Regions from separate parts of the Homo sapiens genome. Here regions 1 and 3 are each linked to region 2. Evidence: fine-mapped expression QTL. A gene starts in region 2. Each other region holds a variant in brackets. All regions are shown on one strand. Distances are from middle to middle.

Region 1 (2,760 bases), 29 kb after region 2:
TTTATGTTCTTGATCCCTGCCCTGCCCCTGCCACCCCAGGTCGGCATCATATAGTGGTTACTGTGTGGAATGCCAGGGTTCAAGTTTGGATCCTGGTGCTATAGCTGCTGGCTGCAAGTTAACTTGCCCTCACTGCATGCTGCGCAGACAGCAGCACCTGCCTCAGGGTGGTTGTGAGGACTGCAGGTTATGATAGACGTGCAGTGCTTTGGGCACTACCTGGCTCTATTGTAAGTGACCAATAATCATTAGCTATTATTACATTATATAGTTAAAAAAAGAGAGACACAGGGGGTGCCTGCTGGACTGGGCGTTCCAGAGGTGATGGACTTCTGAAGTGCTGCTAACCAACAGGGGTTGTCGCTGTGTCCTCTCCTAGGTATTTGAGAGACAGCTGCAGCTGGCTGTGTCTCTAAAGAAGCCCTTGGTGATCCACTGCCGAGAAGCTGATGAAGATCTGCTAGAAATCATGAAAAAGTTTGTGCCCCCTGACTACAAGATCCATAGGTTAGAAGACTGGAACTTCAGCGGGCAAATGAAAGAAACACTTCCTCTGTCAAGTTGATGAGGACAGCAATGATCGTATTCTGTCATTATACACTATCTATTCTTTTTTTTTTTTTTCGAGACGGAATCTCACCCTGTCGCCCAGGCTGGAGTGTAGTAGTGCAATTTCAGCTCACTGCAACCTCTGCCTCCCGGGTTCAAACAATTCTCCTGCCTCAGCCTCCTGAGTAGCTGGGATTACCGGCACATGCCACCACGCCCAGCTAGTTTTTGTATTTTAAGTAGAGACGGGGTTTTGCCATGTTGGCCAGGCTGGTCCCGAACTCCTGACCTCGTGATCTGCCTGCCTCGGCCTCCCAAAGTGCTGGGATTATAGGCGTGAGCCACCGTGCCCGGCCTATACACTATCTTTTCTAAAGAATTAACTATTAGGTTAAACCACTTGAAATTTCTCATATTTGACCTTTTTTTTTTTTTTTGCTCACAAAATAGTAACTTCGTATGGTTTGAACTAATAACCCTAAATCACCAGTGAGCACAAGGGGCCTTTTGTGCCCCCATCCTGGGGATGGGCAGAAATGGAGTTTCAGTTCTCAGCAGTGAGGATTGCTGATCTTGAGAGGTTGCTGTGGGGTGTGGTGGCTTAGCACACAGAGCATCTTAGGGTACTTGAAAGGACATTTTCTTTCCTCTTTTGAACTTGAAAGCTCCTTTCTCCCCAGTTATGAAAATCAAGGTCATGTTTTATCAGAATGGCATCTATGGGTGCTTAAGTTCAGTTTGGTAAACTCTCTGAACTTCTGAACTCTTGCCACGTGTAGGTCCTGGGCTTTGGCTTGCCTCTGGGGACATCTGGAGGTGCTGCCAGGAGACAGGTTGGATGGTGGCTTCTGCCTACATAGCATGTGGGACTGGGTGGTCATAGGTGCTGTGGGAGCCACAGCAGGGGCCCATTATCATAGCCCAGCCAGAAGACTCAGGAGGTGATGCCTGGCCGGCTCCTTAAAGATGGTTGAGAGGGGTTGGCTGAATAACAAGGACTCTAGCACCCAAATCGGGTCTTGTCAGATGGCAGAAAAAGGAGGATGG[G/T]GCTGTCAGGGCCTTTGGGTACCTAAGCAGAATGAGTGAAGCCTCTGACCCCTGGCTGCTGCACACACCAATGATGAGGCAGTCAGTTGGCTTTTCTGGGTCGGTTGGTTTTTCATTACTTCATTTTGGGCTAACTTTGAAGGAAATGTAATGGTGGCTGGTAGGCCAGGGCTAAGGTGACCCAACGAGGTGGTATTGCAGGAGGAGGCCCTAAATTTACAGATTGGTAACTATATATATGGCACCAAGAACATGAACAGGTATCAGATTAAGAAAATCCACCTGTAGTTCGACTCCCCAGTATTTTGTTAGATTTCCTTTCAGTTCATTTGACTACTTGGGCATAGTTTTTATATGCTGTCGTTGTCATCATAGGGGCCACAGTTGTTGATTTTGCTCCTCTTCAGTGTTAGAAGCATTTCCTATCCCAGTGTGTTCTCTGTGGTGGTCATCTCAGGGGACTGCAGAGCACTCTGTGGTGTGCGTGGTATCTCTGAGTGATCTCTGATCACTCACCAAGTGCCATCTCGGGGCTTCCTGTGTTGGAGCCAGCCCTTGTCTGTGTTTACTGTGGAGTCCTTCCCTAGGATGCAGTCTTTCCATTTCTGGGAATCATTGAAAAGGGGTGATGGGTGTGGGGGGAGCTGGGGGCTGCTGCAGAGGGGACTGTGAGCAGCCCTGATGTGGAGTTCTGTCTCCAGGCATTGCTTCACCGGCAGCTACCCGGTCATTGAGCCCCTGCTGAAGTACTTTCCCAACATGTCTGTGGGCTTCACGGCAGTGCTGACATACTCCTCTGCCTGGGAGGCCCGGGAAGCCTTGAGGCAGATCCCACTGGAGAGAATCATCGTGGAAACGGATGCTCCCTATTTCCTCCCTCGCCAGGTAAGGGGGTCTTCAGGCTGAGTGGAGGCACCGGAGGGAGAGGGTGGGGAGGTGGGTGGTCACCCTTACAAGGTTGGCAGGGCCAGAGCCCCAGTGACTTCCAGGTCCCATCCTGGGCTGTGTAGATGCCTCCTTGCTGTTACTCTGCAGAACCAAAAGTCTAGGGGGCTGAGAAGCTGAAGGGTAACCACTCTCTTCCAGGCAGTGCAAAGCCCTACCCTGTAGAGGGTAGTCCAAGGAAGCGTGGGACCCTGCTCACCCAGAGCCCCCATGACTAGG
Region 2 (2,760 bases):
CTGGGACTACAGGCGCCCACCACCACACCAGGCTAATTTTTGTGTTTCACTAGAGACAGGATTTCACCATGTTGCCCACGCTGGTCTCGAACTCTTTGCCTCAAGAGATCCACCCACCTCGGCCTCCCAAAGTGCTGGGATTACAGACGTGTGCCACTGGACCCAGCCTCCTTTGCCAGTCTTAATACTAAGTTATTTTATTATTTTGGGAGAATTGCTACATCGAATATCAGCCCTTTGTCATATGTTTCGAGTATTTTTCTGAATTTGTACCTTGTCTTTGATTTTTTTTCTTTTTTGAGACAGGGTCTTGCTCTGTCCTCCAGGCTGGAGTGCAGTGGCGGGATCACAGCTCACTGCAGCCTCGACCTCCCGGCCTCAAGTGATCCTCCCACCTCAGCCTGAGTAGCTGGCATCACGCCCAGCTAATTTTATTTTTTGTAGAGATGGGGGTCGCACCATGCTGGCCAGGCTGGTCTCTAACTCCCGAGCTCAAGCCATCCTCCCGCCTCGGTCTTCCAAAGTGCTGAGATTGCAGGCGTGAGACACCGTGCCCAGCCGTCTTTAATATTTTTCACCAGGCGGATAGTTCACATTTTTGTGTAGTCTTTTTTTTTTTTTTTTTGGTGCCTTCTAATTCTAATTCTTCCCATTTCTGGGTGTGTACTTAGTCTCTCTGAGCCACAGTTTTCTGCTCTATAAAGTGGGGTGATAATGCTCAGTACACGGTTTGCTTTGGCTCGATGAGAAATCCAGGTCTGAAAGCTTCAGGTACAGCGGCCGGCGCTGAGGAAAACAGCGTTAAGTGAGGCGCGTCAGCGGACACCACCTGCCTGCACATCTGGCTGGCCTCAACTTCCCGCTGTTCGAGCCCACGTGAGTGGCTCCGCCCCATCTGGCTTCTGACCAATGGACGAGCTTCCTAAGGCGTACCGTCCCGACTCCAAGGCGCCTGGCTTTGAGGCGGGCTGCGTCTTGCTCGGAGTCCCGCCCCTTGCCGGGTCGAGCAATGGGCGCCTTCCGTTTGGCGCAGGCCCCGCCCCTGTCGCTCTCCGGCCTGCGGGCCGCAGGGCTCGTTCCGGAGGGCGGGCGCCACGGAGGCCGGAGTGGTCGCAGTTCGGGCGGAGGCCGGGCCAGGCGGGGCTGTAGGGCTGGGGCAGGCGGCGGGCTGCCCGGCGGGACAGCTGCGGCAGCCGGCGGGGGGCGTCCTGAGTTGGCGGTCGAGGGCGCTGCCAGCTCCCGAGGGGCCGCTCGGGCCCCTTCCGGCCCGGGTCTGGTTGGGCCGCAGGAGCAGGGCGGGCTGCGGCGCCCGGGTCTGGCCCTGGCCTACGGGCTAAGCGCCCGGCCCCGGGGCCGCGGATCCGGCAGCCATGTGTGGATCTTGAAGCGCCATGTGGTCTTCTGAAGCGCTTGACAGTTCTAAAGGGCTTTATATTGCAAACTGATCAAAGCGCTTCGTAGCCCCGGAAGCGCTTAGGCATCTCCGAAGTAGCGCTGGGCAAAGTGAAGGCTTCCTGATCTCAGAAGCACGTTGTGGGCTTGGAAACCGACGGCAGCCTTTAGTCAATTTTGGATCGCTTTGACTTCTCCAACACGGTTTGGCATCTCTGAAACCTTGAGAACTGTGATGGGCAGTGGAAAGAAGAGGGAAAGGTCAGTGAGGCTAGCCCCTGGCTCTGCCCTTATGTCTTGCCGTCCTCCTGGGCCCGGGGTGGCGGGAATCTGAGGTGGGGTCGCCAGGAAGGGTGGTGTTGGAATCCAGGCCCCCTGTACCTTGCAGGTGCCCATGGCGTCCGAGCGGGGCAAGGTCAAGCACAACTGGAGCAGCACGTCGGAAGGGTGTCCCCGCAAGCGCAGCTGCCTCCGGGAGCCCTGTGATGTGGCCCCCTCCAGCCGGCCAGCTCAGAGGTCTGCGTCGCGTTCTGGAGGGCCCAGCAGCCCCAAGCGCCTGAAAGCCCAGAAGGAGGACGATGTGGCTTGCTCGCGGAGGTTATCCTGGGGCTCATCCCGCCGCAGAAATAACTCCTCCTCCTCCTTCTCCCCACATTTCTTGGGCCCTGGTGTGGGCGGGGCCGCCTCCAAAGGCTGCCTGATTCGGAACACTCGGGGGTTCCTGTCTTCAGGGGGATCCCCTCTGCGTCCTGCCAACGCCTCTTTGGAAGAAATGGCTTCTCTAGAGGAGGAAGCCTGCAGCCTTAAGGTAGGTGGCTGCCACGCTTTGCAATCGGTGAAGCCCCTTCCACATGGCTTGAGAGGTTGGGGATGGGAATTTTGGTGGAAGGAGACTACAAAACATTACATCCTTGAAGGTCTGGAAGGTCTTTCTAGAAGTCCACTCCCCCCAAACTCGAAGACCTAGCAGTCTTCCAGGCGCGTGGCCTGAAGTTAAGTAGAGAGGTAATTTTCAAACTCGGCAGCACTTTGGAACTACTTGGAAAGCTTTAAAATACTTGGGCCTGCCTCCTACTCCAGAGAAACTGATTTATTGGGCTGAGGTGTGGTCTGGGCTTCCAGATTTTTCAGTGCTCCCCAGGTTATTGTAAACGTGCAGCCCCGTTGGAGAATCACTGCAGTAGAAGGTGGATTATGTGCTCAAGAGAAGAATGTATTTATTTTAGTTGTCAGTTTAAAGAATTGTGTGCCCTTGTACTTTGAACCACTCTGAATCACAGAACCAAGAATTGCGGTTCTTGGTGTAGCTTTTCTCCAAAGTCATAGTTTCCAGCATGTTGGGGTTTTGCTTGGTGGTGCTAGTTTTTT
Region 3 (2,760 bases), 25 kb after region 2:
CGGCGTCCGAAAAGTGCTGGGATTACAGACCTGAGCCACTGCGCCCGCCCCCTGTTAATATTTTTTTTCCTCCCAATATTTTTTGAGCATAGTGCTTTGGCAGGGTAAGAGTTGTAGTATTTTAGAATTTCTTTTCTTTTTTTTTCAGAGATAAGGTCTTTGTCGCCCACACTGGAGTTCAGTGGTGCAGCCACAGCTCACTGCAGCCTTGACCTCCTGGGCTCAAGTGATCCTCCCACCTCAGCCTCCCAAGTAGCTGGGACTGCAGGTGCACACCACCACGCCTGGCTAATTAAAAATAAAAATTTTTTTGAGATGGAGTCTTGCTGTGTCACCCAGGCTGGAGGGCAGCGGTACGATCTCAGCTCACTGCTACCTCCACCTCCCCAGTTCAAGTGATTCTCCTGGCTCAGCCTCCTGAGTAGCTGGGATTACAGGTGCCTGCCACCACACCCGGCTAATTTTTTTTTTTTTTTAAGGCAGAGTTTCACTCTTGTTGGCCAGGCTGGAGTGCAATCGCATGATATTGGCTCACTGCAGCCTCCAGTTCCCAGGTTCAAGCGATTCTCTTGCCTCAGCCTCCTGAGTAGCTGGGATTATAGACTCCCGCCACCACGCCCAGCTAATTTTTTGTATTTACAGGATCACACCTGTAATCCCAGTATTTTGGGAGGCCGAGGCAGGCGGATCACCTGAGGCCAGGAGTTGGAGACCAGCCTGGCCAACGTGGCGAAACCCCGTCTCTATTAAAAATACAAAAATTAGCTGGGTATAGCTGGGTGTGGTGACTCATGCCTGTAATCCCAGCACTTTGGGAGGCCAAGGCGAGCGGATCACCTGAGGCCAGGAGTTGGAGACCAGCCTGGCCAACATGGTGAAACCCTATCTCTACCAAAAAAAAAAAAAAAAATTAGCTGGGTGTGATGGTACATGCCTGGGGTCCCAGCTACTCAGGAGGCTGAGGCAGGAGGATTGCTTGAGCCTGGGAGGTTGAGCTGCAGTGACCCATGATTATGCTCCAGCCTGGGTGACAGAGTGAGACCCTGTCTCAAGACAAAATTATCAGGGTCTCAGGTCTGCACTTAAAGGTCCATGGGGCGACCTGCACAACAAACTGAACTAGAAGCGATAGGCATAGGGGGATAAACACAGTCTTGAAGATGTCATTTGGCTTGGTGAGATTTGACTCAAGACTGGAAGATAATGAGTCTGAGGAGTTGCTGGCTGGGAGAGGGCTAAGCTGCCTGTAAAGGGGAGGAAGACTAGAAAATATTTGTCAACACCAGAGACTCCTAGGCTGGGTGGGGGATATGGACACTGTTTTGATGTAAATAAAAAATTTGGCACCCAAATGAGGTGA[ATGG/A]TGGTGACTGGCAACTGCACCTAGTTGGATGTCAGTGCTGAGTTGCATTTACCTAAAAGAGCAGTTAGCAAGTTCTGGATGTGTCCTGCTGAATGTTTTATCTTGTGAAGGGAAGAAGAAGAACCTATAGAGGGCTGGGCGAGGTGGCTCACGCCTGTAATCCCAACACTTTGGGAGTCTGAGGCAGGAGATTGCTTGAGCCTAGGAGTTCAAGATGAGCCAAGGCAACATAGTGAGACCCCATCTTTATTACATTAAAAAAAAAAAAGAGCCTGTGGAAGGTCTGTATCTGGGCAAGATGATAGGGTGACAGACCCTGCTCATTATAGGAGAGTTTGGTTGATGTACCTAAAATTTTCTGGAAGGATTGGAAAATAGAGAAAAGCAAAACAATTGGGGAAAGAATGGGTAGTTATAGTTATTCTGCTGGTTAGAGCAAATTACTGTTAACGTTTTCTTTGTTGATCTGTGGTGTTTACAGATTAACTATGTAACTCATAAGAGTTAGATCCTGAATAGTTTGTGTGTAAGTTGCACATGTCAGCATCTGGGAGGGATGCCAGGGAGAGTAGACTGTCCTTCCCTACCCAGGCTGTATCTCTTTACTTGTGTTAAAGAGGAATTAATTAATTATTAAAGTAATAAATATGCAAGAGATGCCTGGGGCAACTCCCAGGAGAGACTAACTCTGGAATCCCTGGAAATAATGGATCAGTTAGGAAGCCAACCTTATGCAGGTAGAAGTGAGTAATTATACTGGGTAATAACTCATCTGTACTTCCTTCACTCCTGTTGTTTTTCAGCTGGGTTCCTGGTGAGGACAAATGCTGCAAATAGCTCCTGTCCAACCACAAGTTCCTGCATTCTAATGAGTTCTTCTTCCTTCTTAACATTTTTGAAATCTGGATGTGTTTCATGAAACATTATAAATGTAATGTTATTGTTCCTTGGAAAATTGCAAGGTACAATACAATTGCAAGGAACAGTTGCACAGTGGCTTGTCTTCCATGCACCTGTCGTAGGTTGGATGTGTGTGCTTGTGTTAAAGAAAGAAATTAGGAAATTAAATAGTTTTAAGTGTCTTTTCTACTCGTGAAATTTTCCCATTCATCAGCTATACTTTGAAAAATGTTTAACAGCTGTGTAATATTCTATCCTAAAGCTCTAATAGTTTATTTCACTACTCTGAGGGATAATTTTTTAGAGGCAGGAATGAAATGTTGGAATTGGAATCTCTTGAAACCTCTGCTGCCTGTGTGTAGGGGTCGGGGAGGGCAGATGAACAGCTTAGCAGATGCAAATAGGAGGGGCTCCAGCCACCTATTGATAGTGGAACTGGCCAGGCTTTAGATAAAGCCTCTGTCAAGCAGTCTATAATTTTGATGTCTGTGGTCATT

Evidence for each region. PIP is the estimated chance that this variant, and not a neighbour inherited with it, causes the effect.
Region 1: its variant is the best candidate, but not a certain one, in a credible set for the expression of TATDN2 in prefrontal cortex (GTEx, PIP 0.70).
Region 3: its variant is the best candidate, but not a certain one, in a credible set for the expression of TATDN2 in whole blood (INTERVAL, PIP 0.70).

What each region holds. Positions count from the first base shown.
Region 1 is chr3:10,275,982-10,278,741 of GRCh38, forward strand. TATDN2 (TatD DNase domain containing 2) reads left to right here. Exons shown (of 8, transcript NM_014760.4): 5 at 380-507; 6 at 2,298-2,481. Among named protein-coding and RNA genes, the nearest start is that of MIR12127, 3.0 kb to the right of the region's middle. The variant G/T (reference allele first, on the strand shown) is at 1,597.
Region 2 is chr3:10,247,415-10,250,174 of GRCh38, forward strand. It overlaps TATDN2 (TatD DNase domain containing 2), which reads left to right and starts at 1,045. Exons shown (of 8, transcript NM_014760.4): 1 at 1,045-1,653; 2 at 1,781-2,200. The coding sequence starts at 1,787. RefSeq lists a silencer at 931-1,360 and an enhancer at 1,613-2,481.
Region 3 is chr3:10,271,980-10,274,739 of GRCh38, forward strand. The region is part of intron 4 of TATDN2 (TatD DNase domain containing 2); the gene reads left to right. Among named protein-coding and RNA genes, the nearest start is that of MIR12127, 7.0 kb to the right of the region's middle. The variant ATGG/A (reference allele first, on the strand shown) is at 1,361.